3 separate regions of the Homo sapiens genome follow, and regions 1 and 2 are each linked to region 3. The links come from fine-mapping of genetic effects on gene expression. A gene starts in region 3. Each other region holds a variant in brackets. All regions are shown on one strand. Distances are from middle to middle.

The links. PIP is the estimated chance that this variant, and not a neighbour inherited with it, causes the effect. A credible set is the group of variants that fine-mapping cannot tell apart.
Region 1: its variant is the best candidate, but not a certain one, in a credible set for the expression of TWIST1 in tibial nerve (GTEx, PIP 0.64).
Region 2: its variant is the best candidate, but not a certain one, in a credible set for the expression of TWIST1 in tibial nerve (GTEx, PIP 0.76).

Annotation. Positions count from the first base shown.
Region 1 is chr7:19,600,618-19,604,861 of GRCh38, forward strand. The region is part of intron 3 of LOC105375180 (a long non-coding RNA gene); the gene reads left to right. Among named protein-coding and RNA genes, the nearest start is that of MIR3146, 100 kb to the right of the region's middle. The variant C/T (reference allele first, on the strand shown) is at 2,034.
Region 2 is chr7:18,857,442-18,861,685 of GRCh38, forward strand. All of the region lies in intron 21 of HDAC9 (histone deacetylase 9), which reads left to right. Among named protein-coding and RNA genes, the nearest start is that of HDAC9-AS1, 42 kb to the right of the region's middle. The variant C/T (reference allele first, on the strand shown) is at 2,099.
Region 3 is chr7:19,115,002-19,119,245 of GRCh38, forward strand. It overlaps TWIST1 (twist family bHLH transcription factor 1), which reads right to left and starts at 2,635. Exons shown (of 2, transcript NM_000474.4): 1 at 1,670-2,635; 2 at 467-1,130. The coding sequence starts at 2,320. The coding sequence ends at 1,712. RefSeq lists enhancers at 1,642-1,901, 1,925-2,708, 3,782-4,244.

The DNA.
Region 1 (4,244 bases), 490 kb after region 3:
AATAATAGTGACCCCTGCTCTTTTCTGTTCTCCGTTTATGTGATAGATCTTTCTCCAATCATTTTGTCCTGCATGTGTGTCCTTACCTGTAAGGTGGGGCTCTTAGAGACAGAAGACAGATAGGTCTTTTTTTTTTTTTTTTTTTTTTTTTTTATCCAATTTGAAACTCTGCCTGTAAATGGGGCCTTTAGACCATTTACATTCAAGGTTAATATTGATATGTGACATTTTGATCCTATTGTGAAGTTGTTAGCTGGTTGCTTTGTAGTTTCTATTGTGCGGTTGCTTTATAGGGTCTACGGACTATGTACTTAAGTGTGTTTTATGGTAGCAAGTATCATTCTTTCATATACATGTTTAGAACTTCCCTAAGGAGGGCTGGTCTAATGGTAATAAATTCCCTTATTGCTTGCTTCTCTGGAAAATATTTTATTTTTCCTTTGCTTATGAGGCTTAGTTTAGTGGGATATGTAATTCTCAGTTGGAATGTATTTTCTTTAAGAATGCTGAAAATAGACCTCAATCTCTCCTGACTTGTAAGATTTCTGCTGATAACTCTGCTGTTAGCCTGATAACATTCCCTTTGTACATTTCTGACCTTTTTCTTTAGTTGCCTTTAAGATTTCTTTCTTTATCATTGACCTTGGATAGTTTGATGACTTTATGCCTTGCTGTTGTTCGTTTCATACAGTATCTCACAGGTGTTCTTTGGATTTATTGTATCTGAATGTCAACATCTCTAGCAAGATTAGGGAAATTTTCTTGAAGTATTTCCTAAAATATGTTTTTGAAATTGTTTTTTCTCCTCTCTCAGGATTGCCAACACTTTATAGGCTTGGTCACTTTATAGAATCTCATATTTCTTGAAGACTTTTCATTTTTTTAATGCTTTATTCTTATTCTTTTTTTTTGTCTGACTGAATTAGTTTGAAAGACGTGCCTTCAAGCTCTGAAATACTTTCTTCTGCTTTGTCCACTCTATTGATAACAGTTTCACTGATATTTTGAAATTCCTTAAATGAGTTTTTCTATTCCAAAATCTCCAATTGCTTTTTTTTAAAGCTATATATCAGTTTATTCATTTCCTGATGGAGACCTAGTATGATCCTTTTTTTTTTTTCAGGTATTACATGGTGCCACAATTCTTGCACTGGTTCCTTTTCATCTGGATATGCTGGCCCTTCTAATTTTGGTAATTATTTTTGTGCGAGGAGAATTTGTTTCTTTCAGTATATTTTTTCCTTTACCTTTCACCCCACCCCCTCCCTTGGGGGTGTGACCTTAGAGAACGTTGATTAGAGTTTTTTGGCTTTGCTTTTATAGCCTTATTCAGGTTTTTCAGCAGGTTTTATATTAGGCTGTATGGTTCAACCTGCAAGTCAATATATAACATTTATGGGTAATAGCCAGCTGAAGCCAACATGGCTAGGTATGTACTTGATTCTTGTTTACCAGGTAGAACTATCTGTTGTCTCAGGCCACAGGCTGATCTGTGGTTTGCACAGAAGTCTGAGCTCCCTGTTCAGCCCAAGGGAGTGGGGCTCAAGATGGCAAGGGTTAGACCGGGCAGGACCACCTACATATTCCCTCATGGCAAGCACAAGCACCAGTGCTGAGAGAGAATCCAGTGGGTGTGCTACCAATCACTCAGAATTATGTCTAGGCATAGAGCTGGGCAACCTACTTAGTTTTCAGTTCTTTGCACAGGTAGTTGGGTGGCCTAAACTGCTATTCCAGGAGGGTAGGCACTCTAGATGCCTGGAGATCTGCCTGAGGGTGGAGTGCAGAGGGCCACAGTGCATCAAAATCTCTGCACAGAAAAAATAGGTGGCACAGGCTACTCATTCAGGCAGGTGGGTGCTCTGAATCACTAGAGATCTGCCTGGGCATGGAGTAGAAAAGGCCCTGGTGCACCGCAGTTTCTATGCAGGAAAGGTAGCGCAGCTCAGGCTGTGAATCTTGTGAGCAGGTGCTCTGAATGCCTGGAGATCTGCAAGGGCGTGAAGAAGAGAAGGCCCCTCTCCCAACCCTGG[C/T]GCCAGGATCTCTGCACAGGAATTGTGGGGCAAGCTGGTCCTTTGAATACCCAAAGATCTGCCTGGGCATGAAGCAGATTGGACCAAACTGCACAATGATCTGTGCACTGGAAGGGTGGGGCTGCTTATCCAGGTGAGCAGGTACTCTGAATGTCTGGAGATCTGCAAGGGCATGAAGAAGAGAGGGACCCTCACCCCACCCTGGATCCAGGATCTCTGCACAGGAATTGTAGGGCAAGCCAGTCCTTTGAATGCCTGAAGATTTGCCTGGGCATGGAGCGGAGTGGACCCCACTGCACAATGATCTATGCACAGGAAGAGTGGGGTGGCTCCAGCTGCTTATCCAAGTAAGCAGATACTCTGCATGCCTGGAGATCTGCCTGGCCATGGAGCAGAAAGGGCTCTACCACACCATGATATATGTCTAGGATGGGTGGAGTGGCTAAGGCTGCTGAACTAGGAAAGTAGTTGCTCTGAATGCCTGGATATCTTCCTGGTCATGTAGTGGAGAGCACCCCACTGCACCACGATGTATGCACACGAAGAGTGGGGTGGCTCAGGCTGCTGATCCAGGTGAGAGTGTGCTGCCAATGCCTAGAGATCTCCTTTTATCACCTGGATACCATCACAGGGGCTCTTTGTCCCTGTTGTTCTCCCTGAGATCTGGGATATCTTCATGATTCTGGTGGATTCGTGTCTTTCTTCTTAAATTAAAACTCAAAAGTTGATCTTCATGTACAATCTTGTTATTTCCAACTGGCTGAGACACACAAAAAGTCTTGACTCCACCATTTTTTAGGGAAAAGCTGTTTTTCATTTAATTCAATGACCACTCAAGAATCATGCATTTTATTTGTGATGTCTGTAATCTTCTATAATCTAGAAGACATCAGCATTTTTTATGTCTTTCTTGAAACTGATATTTTTGAAGAATCAAGGTCAGATTGACACATATTTTGGCCTTGTTAGGTAATTTCCTAGTAAGCAGAAACATTTTTGGCAGAAATTTTATGTTAGTAATATTTGGTCTTTCCCAATTTATCACATTGGGAGTACATGATATCACTCTTCGCCATAACTGTTTATGTTAAGTTTGATTAGTTAAGATACGATTTCTTCATGGTAAAGATTTACTTAGCATTTTATAATTGATAAATACAGTTTCTTCAACGTTTATTAGTCTGTCTTCTTTAAAAAATCATTTACTCAAATTTTCCCTTCCCAATTCATCTATTTTAAAATCAGTATCGATTTGTAGATTTTTTGTGTGTGTAATTCTATTTCTGTAAGTATTTATTTTGAAGCAAAAAATTGTCCCAAATTTGGCCAGTGAAAGACTCTTAATGCCGGTTTCCTCAGGATATGTCTCTGTTAGTTCTCCAGGTTCTTCTTATTTCCTGGCACAACGGGATAGTTGAGGGTCACACTATAACCTTCCTGCTCTCGATCTGGAATCAGCCTTTTCTCCAAGGAGCTCTTGTTCCTTTTAGTGTAAAATGATATGTCAAAAGTGATATTGGTAAGCTAGGAATTATTATTGCTACTAGGGTGCCATTTTGTTAGATCCTTTTTGTAGACAGATACTCCCAATTCCAATTCTAGCACCACAATATGTTTCTTCTTTTTCTCCTATTCCATAATTGTATTTTTTCTTCTACAGCAAAAAAATCCTAATATATTAACAATATCAATATATAATAACTTATTTTCTCAATTCTACAATAAATACAAAATAGTGTTGGAATTTCTGTGTTAGTACCACTGCAAATAATAAACCTAATAAGGAAAGCTCAAGATACCTTAATGTTTTTTGTCCTTAGAATATATACCATTGGAATTATACAGTTAAATTATCATATGAAAAACTTATTTGGATAAATTTTAGTCTTTCTATCTAAGTGAATATGTTATCTCCTTGATACATAGTTATAGGCCGTTTCTGTTTATATTGAATTTTAGGATTTCTTCCCTTTGTTGAAATAGTTTTATTTTTTGCTTATGTAAAATATTAACATGTTTCAAAATCCAATTTCCTTCCCAATCTCTTTCTCTGGATTCTTAATCACTTCTTGTAAGTAAACAATTTTATCAGTGGCTAATTTATCCTTACTGCATGTCTTCTTGAAAAATGAGCATACAGTGATGATAGATATCTAGAAGTAAATATGCAGACATACATATGAGCTTGTGTTCACACAAAAGGTAGTGTTC
Region 2 (4,244 bases), 260 kb before region 3:
TTAAACAGCCAATTAAAATATCATTTTATCTATAAAGTTTTGTCTCTGTTCTCCAGAATAATTAATAAGTTCATTTTCTATGTCCACATTTATAGCTGTAGTTTCTAGAGTAATTATTGTTTTGAACTGGGAGAAAAAAATCAATATCTGTATTAATGAACGCATCCCTTTGAACTGGAAGAAATTTGTTTACAGAGTTGCTTCATCCATGCCATCTGAACTTGTTAAGTATAGGAATCATAGGAATCTGTCCTGACATTATGAAATCTAGCACTTGGCACCTTGGCATTGAGATTCACTGTAGATGTTCAATGAATGTTCCAGGAATAAATTAATAAATGAAAAAATCTATGAAAAGACAAACTTGACAAAGTTGGGTTCAGCTATTTTGTTTTCAAATGGGAATGTGACATTCCCATTTTCAATGGGAATTTGAAAATATTTATCTAATATCTGCTACTTGAAAAGATTTTTAAAAACAAGCTAATTTTTTAAATATGAGGGTACAGTACTGATGTACTAATAACTGTGGAGTATTATTTGGTCTAAAACAAATACACATGCACAAAAGAAAATTAGTTTTCAAATGTTTATCCATTGAAATCTTGGATTCTGCCGGCTGTTTAGTGGTTCATTTAGCATGTCACAGTATCATGACAGCAGTGTCGAAATACCACCATAACATTCCCTTTTCAAAAAATGAAAATAATCAGTGAGAAAGCTAGCTATCTGTGCATATGGATCCACATGGTTGCATATTTGGAAAAATGGATAATCAATGTATTACTCAATTCTTAGGCTGCTGTGAAGAAATACCCTAGACTGGGTAGTTTATAAAGGAAAGAGGTTTAATTGACTCACGTGGCTGCATGTTCTGCATGGCTAGGCAAGCCTCAGGAAACTTACAATCATGGTGGGAGGCACCTCTTCACGAGGCAGCAGGAGAGAGAATGAGTGCCCAGCAAAGGGGGAAGCCCCTTATAAAACCGTCAGCTCTCATGAGAACTCAATATCACAGGAACAGGATAGGGGAAATCACCCCCATGATTCAATTATCTCCACCTAGTCCCTCCCATGACATGTGGGGATTATGGGAACTACAATTCAATATGAGATTTGGGTGGGGACACCAAAGTAACCAAATCAGCTTATGTTAACATTTCCTATCTAGAATGTTTGAATGTACTTTACTCAGAAATTGCTTTCATGCTAATCCAAGTGACAACCCATAGTCTAACTAGTCAGAGTATATTTTTATCTTAAATAATAAAACTACTCTATCATGTCACCATGGAAATTTCGTACTTTGTGGAGTGAACATTGCAGTTGGAATTGTACCTGGAAATAAGTTGCTGCTGAATAAATATTGACAGCAGTGTCTCATTTTTACCATGTCCTGATCTCCTGTGAAGTTTGAGTGGCATACCTACTTCCCTTCTAACTCACAGAAACACTGAAGTGATTGCTTCAATACACATGATATGCCTTCATTGCCTCATTGAATCAGAGCACTTAGAAACACTATTTTTTCATCCAAAAATGCAGTTAAAAGGCAGTGAAATTGTCAAGCTTCCGAGAACGTGATCTTTGGATTCAGACAGATATGAGTTTGAATCCCAAGTCAGTCAGTTATTTGCTGAAACAACTTGACTGATTATCTTACCTTCATTGAGTCTTAGTCTTACTGTCTATAATTGGGATCAAAGTACATAATTTCAAGTATATTGTGATCATTGCAACATTAGAAGGAATGTATAAACTTCTTAACTTCATGCCTGGCACCTAGTACATTGTCAAAATGGTTGATGATTTTGTTGTTGTTGCTAGAAGAAAAGAGTTTCCTTGCCTCCAACATAAACTATTTTTTTAGTTTTGGAATTAATCCTACTCTCCTGTTATTTTAGCTATGAATACATGTAACACTCCTAGATCTTGGGCTGATCTCCTGATTGAGAAGACAGCCTGACTCTGCACTTCAGAACTCTATTCAGGCCCCAAGTTCTTTCTTTCTTCTCAGTCTCTTTCTGGCTATGCCTCAGGGAACAAGTAAAATGTGTTACTAAATGAGCTTGCCTTTTGTCTTGTTCATCTCACATTG[C/T]TACGCAATTAAAAAAAAAAAAAACTTGATGATGCTGCCTTCCTCAGAAAGGCCACATCAAAAGGTAGAGTTAACCAAAAATAATACACACTTTTTCCAAAGACACAAACAGTTCCTTGAAAAGGATGTCATGCTGTAATTTGTTTTGTGAATTCTATAAACCACAGAACATTTACTTACAGTAATGTTTGACCTTTCTTTTTCCTTATTTTTATGCCTACAAAGCTTCTTTTTCTCTCCTCTTGAGAAGAAATATAAAGGCTAACGCTCTCATATATATATATATATATATATATATATATATATATATATATATATATGTGAGAGAATGAGAGAGAGAGAAATATATATGATTTTATTGGAATACTGAATTTAATTTTTAGCCAAAGTCCTTTGGCTTTATGCAATAATATTTTATGGAATGCAATCACTTGTGCAAAGACTAAAGAGAGGCTCATTTGAAACTTTGCAAAAAGAATATGCTGCTCATAGGGTAATGGGAAATGCAATATGTGTACTAAGCTACACACTGCACCCCACCGAAAGGAGAGAAATCCCTATGACTGATTTGATGGTAGTATAATCTCTTTAGGGATTTTTTGGATAAAGAAAGTAATAACAAAAAATAGGCACATAATTAAGTTTCCAAAGTGCACGTGTCACCAGCATCTTATTGTCCCTCTGGAGGGGAAATTTACTAATGACTTGGGTAGACATTTTTCCTGCTATGTGCCCAACTGAGAAAAAAAAATCAGCCTTTCCAAATTTTCTAAATAATTCTCTGCTATGTAAGTTTTAAGAACATTTTACTGTCATTTGTGTTCTATTTTCTATTCATTATGGCAATGTTTTACAACCACCAGGTTGCTATAGAAATGAAAATAAACAAAGATTTGGAAAGATACATGTTGCAGGGGCTTGTTCTGCCTCTCTTGCCTAAACCATGAGGATTATGTTATTCTTTAAATATACTTTCTTCCTTGGTTATCCAGTTGGTCTTAATATAAGGAAACAAAGTTAAATACTTTGTTCTGACTTGTGTCAAATTTTTCTCAATGTCTTAAACTCTTTTCCTGTCCTTTAAGAATAAATTGGGCTAAAAGAGGATAAAATTAGAAGGAAATAAAGGAAAGAAAAAAAGGAAGACGGAAGAAAGGAAGGAAGGAAAGAGGAAGGAGTAATAAGGTAGGCATAAGATAAAACTAAAAGTTGCTATGGAGCTGACCTCCTTGTCAGCACCCACTGGAACTATAAGGAAGGGTGTATTTTATTGAGCAATCACAGGCAATTTTGAAGGGGTTCAAGAAGAATCAGTAGTTCTAGTGCATTATGCTGGCAAAGACCCTTGCCCGCTCTCCACACCCTTGTAGCTCAGCCTCAGTTCTCTAGGATGTGGTCTTTTGTTAATTGGATAGTAGCAGAGCAAAGTCGGGACTACTGATCCTTTCCAGCTCTAGTCCTTACAAATATGGAAAGACTGATTTAGTAATGCTTATGAAACCAAATACATAACAGCCCCTTTATGTTACTGGACTCACATTTGAAATCATAATAAAATATTTCTTGAGAACCACTGTTGCAAACTTAAAGACACATTTTTGGCATATTAAAATTCACGGTATTTCTATGCTTTTATACAATAATGACTGGGAAGGGACATATATAATTACATTCTACATTTCTCAGCAAAAGAGTGTTTACTTCAGTACAATTTTAATATTAACTCTTAATGACTTCTACCAACTCCAAACTAAGCATGTTTCAACATTTTGTTGTTTCTTTCTAGACTAGATTTCAGTACAGAGTTTAACGAAAGCAAAATCTGTTAATTCTGTTGTCATTGTTTTATATATGGTAATTAGATAAGAATCAGTTTATCTGTTTTGATAAACTAGCAATCTTACCATTTTGCCCAGCTCCCTATGCTTGCGTATAGGATTTTGCCTAGGGAGGTGGCATCATTCTCTATTCAGAGGCGTTCCAAATATAATAATATAAATACACTAATACTATTCTCACAGACAATGTCCCAAAGTCAGGAAGAGATACTGTTGAGAAAAATTTCTCTCTCAACTCTTAGCTCAGAGACACATTGGGCAATATCTCAGAATTAGTCAGAAATGTTACTGGCTACGTGACACATCTT
Region 3 (4,244 bases):
CTGGTCATTTCTATATGTGTATAGATAATTTTCATAACACTATATATGTTTTCACTGAAAAGAACCTGTTATTTAGGAATCTTCACAAAGAGTGAAGAGCATGACAAAAAGTACATAATAAGAGAATAGTGCAGGTTTTATACTCCTTATTTGCATTTAACTGTTTTAACAACTATCACCTCAAAATAAAAAGGAGGTGAATAGCAAATTTGTTAAGTTTTTGCTGTTTGGAGACAGTAAGAGATGAAGAGATGCTACTAAGCCCTCTGAATACCAAACTGGAATAATAATAAAGCTGTCTTTTAAAATAACATGCTTGTGCCTGTCAGTAGCTGCTTTATTTGAGTTTTTCATTGCTTTGTTTATATTAGTGCCCCCTCCCTCCTGGGTGCCTCTAGAATTAAACAAGCAGGTATTTACCACCAACTTAATCTTTAGTTTTAAAAATATAGACCAAACTCTAAGGTTCTCTAAATTTTTTATATTTATTTATTGCAGAAAAATATACAAAGATATTTACAAAACAATCATAAAAATATGAATGCATTTAGACACCGGATCTATTTGCATTTTACCATGGGTCCTCAATAAATAAATAGAATGTTGTTTTTTGTATTTTAAGTTTTTTTTTGTTTTTCCCCTCAGAGGAAGGATGAAAAAAAGAATTAACTGACTATGGTTTTGCAGGCCAGTTTGATCCCAGTATTTTTATTTCTAAAGGTGTTCTTATAGTTCCTCTGATTGTTACCATTTTAAAATAGAGAAAGTCCATAGTGATGCCTTTCCTTTCAGTGGCTGATTGGCACGACCTCTTGAGAATGCATGCATGAAAAAAATAAAAATAAAAACATTCTTCGTCAAAAAAAAAAAAAAAAAAAACACAAACAACTGTTCAGACTTCTATCAGAATGCAGAGGTGTGAGGATGGTGCCGCTGCCCGTCTGGGAATCACTGTCCACGGGCCTGTCTCGCTTTCTCTTTTAAAAGTGCGCCCCACGCCCTGTTTCTTTGAATTTGGATTTTGCTCTTCTAATTTCCAAGAAAATCTTTGGCATATATTTTTATTTTTAGTTATCCAGCTCCAGAGTCTCTAGACTGTCCATTTTCTCCTTCTCTGGAAACAATGACATCTGCAAAAACCCAGAGGGGGGGGGGGGAGTCGGTTATTGTTTAGGTCTCTGCGGCTGTTTTCTAAGACTAGTGAGCACTGTTCTTATCACCACCACTGAGAAATTAAGCTGAACAACCTGGAAGGATTTCAGCCCAAGGGCAAGAGGAAGTGGGTGGGTGGAAAGGAGGAGGAGGTGGAATTTGTTTTAAAACATTTGTTTTAAGGAGAACAAAAATTGAAAGCCGAAAGAAAGGGTGGCGCTGACAAAACGGTCCTTACCCGTGACCCTGGGTGTCTCTGTCTCCCCTCCTGTCACGCACACTCACGCGCACACACACCCCTCACCAGGGCGCATCCCCCTGGAGACTGCTCTCCCTAGCGGGGTCAGACCGGCCTTCCGGGGACGCTGGGGGCGCGAGGCAACGGTGCCAAGTGAGGTGGGAAGGCTGAGCGGAGAGTGGGAGAGGGGAGGAAATCGAGGTGGACTGGGAACCGCGGCCTGGCCGGCCTGCCGTCTGCCACCTGAGAGGCGAAGGGGTGCAGCGGCGCGGTCCTTACCTAGGTCTCCGGCCCTGCTGAGGGGGTGGGGGGCTCCGCCTGCTAGTGGGACGCGGACATGGACCAGGCCCCCTCCATCCTCCAGACCGAGAAGGCGTAGCTGAGCCGCTCGTGAGCCACATAGCTGCAGCTTGCCATCTTGGAGTCCAGCTCGTCGCTCTGGAGGACCTGGTAGAGGAAGTCGATGTACCTGGCCGCCAGCTTGAGGGTCTGAATCTTGCTCAGCTTGTCCGAGGGCAGCGTGGGGATGATCTTCCGCAGCGCGGCGAACGCCTCGTTCAGCGACTGGGTGCGCTGGCGCTCCCGCACGTTGGCCATGACCCGCTGCGTCTGCAGCTCCTCGTAAGACTGCGGACTCCCGCCGCCGCTGCTGCTGCCGCCGCCGCCGCCCGCGCCGCCGCCGCCGCCACAGCCCGCAGACTTCTTGCCGCGCTTGCCCTGGGCCGGGCTGCCCGGCTCGTCGCCGCCTCCGACGCCCCCACCCGCGGCTCCGCCGGGCCCCGCGCCGCCGCCCGCGCTGCGCCTGCTGCTGCGCCGCTTGCGTCCCCCGCGCTTGCCGCTCGGCGGCTGCTGCCGGTCTGGCTCTTCCTCGCTGTTGCTCAGGCTGTCGTCGGCCGGCGAGACTGGCGAGCTGGACACGTCCTGCATCATCTCTCGAGCGGCGACGCGTGGCCTCGCGGGCCCGGGGCAGAGGAGAAGAGCGGGGCGCCTCAGCCCGCCAGCTTCCCCCGCGCGCGGCGCCGGCCCGGGCGATGCGGCCCGCGGAGGAGAGAGCAGGAGGACGGACGGGAGGGACCTCCGCGGGGAGGGCGCGCGGGGGAGGCGGGGAGGGAGGCGGGAGGGGGAGGGGACGGTGTGGATGGCCCCGAGGTCCAAAAAGAAAGCGCCCAACGGCTGGACGCACACCCCGCCAGGCCTCCTGGAAACGGTGCCGGTGCTGCAGAGCCCGCGAGGTGTCTGGGAGTTGGGCGAGAGCTGCAGACTTGGAGGCTCTTATACCTCCGTGCAGGCGGAAAGTTTGGGGGCAGCAGTGTCATTGGCCTGACGTGAGGAGGAGGGACTTTTCGAAGTTTTATAGGAAAGTTTCCGCTTTCCAGTCCCCCTCCCCCGTCCCACCTCCCTTCCTCGGGGTCTAACAATTCGTCCTCCCAAACCATTCAAAAACGACCTGGCCCGGGCGGCCGGCCCCTCCACCCGCCTCCTAGCCGCCCTCCCCCTTCCCTCCCCGTCGCCTTCCTCCGGCGGGCGCGGGGCGATTTCCTTCCCCGCCGGAGCGTGCGGGCAGCGCCCCCGAACCCTAGCGCAGCCCAGGAAGCGGTCGGAGGAGACTGTCCTGGCCGCGGTGGCAGCCCCATCCGGAGTGGCTGTGACAGCAGCAATGGCAACAGCTTCTACACAGTGGGTGATGTCTCATCTCGCCCAAGAGCCCTCTAGGTCCGTGGGGCCGATTTGGGATTGCTGGGGCTGGGGGGGTGGTGTGGCGCGGGGTGGGGGGGCATGCCAAGAAAAGTGTCAACCGCGGAGCCCACCCAATGGTCAGGTAGACGAACCCCTTGGAGTTCCAAAGGCCAAACCGCGGCGGCCCAGCCCGGAGGTCCTGGGCGTTTCTGAAGACGTGGCCGCGCCGCGGGGGCTGAGGATTTGCGTCCCGGCCTGCTCTCTCGCCCTTCTGGGCCCTCCTTTCCCCTCTACAACGACCCAGTCTGACGCTCCCCAACATCCAAAGGACTACGCCTCGGAAGGTGCTCGAAAGAGGCAGAAGTTCACTCTTCGGTGGAAGGAAACCCAGTCCATGGGAAAGGCAGCAGAGCCAGAGGGGGGCAGCGCAGCGCCTTTGCTGCGGCCCTAACAGCTGGCAATGCCAACCCAAGGGAGAGACCCTGTGGCCATTTCATCCCCACCCCCAAATTAGGCTCCGCATTGTGACCTTGAAAGGCCAGCTTGTAAGAGAGTGAAGTGGGAATTTGATAGCGCCTAGACATAGGGGCTGCCCGCTCTGAGACCCCCCCCGCCCCAGCCCCCACTATCTAGGGCATCCAGTGGACAATTAGGCTTCGTGAGCCCCAATTCCAAATGCTTGGATACGCTAACATTTTAAGCATTTCTGTCTGTAAGTTAAAACGAAGAGCCCCAAAGAGGGTGTTAATGTAGATCCTGGCAAACTGGAAGCAGCAAAGTTGGTGAACCAGAAAGGAAGTCGCCTTGGATAAGAAGCCCATCTTTTGCAATGCCATACTTGTTTCCTTTTTGAAATGAATTGAGGTAAAATAACCGTTTCAGGTCCATCCCTTACATGGCAAAGTAAAAAGCTGGAGTCAGTACACAGTGTTGGGGTGGGGGCAGCGTTTGGGGGCGACGAGTTTTGTGCACCGCGCTGGAGTACCCTGCACATAAGGTCCGCTCATGGGCTTCTCAGTACGGACTCGCCGGCGGGAACAATTAATTGAGCAAAGCGCCCCTTTCTGGGCTGGAGCAAGGTTCGCGGCTGCAGATATCTCAAGCTGAAGGCAAGAGCCCAGGCGAGGCGCAGGCAGGCCACGTGGCTGTTCCCTGCTGAGACTCGCAGCTTTGGTCT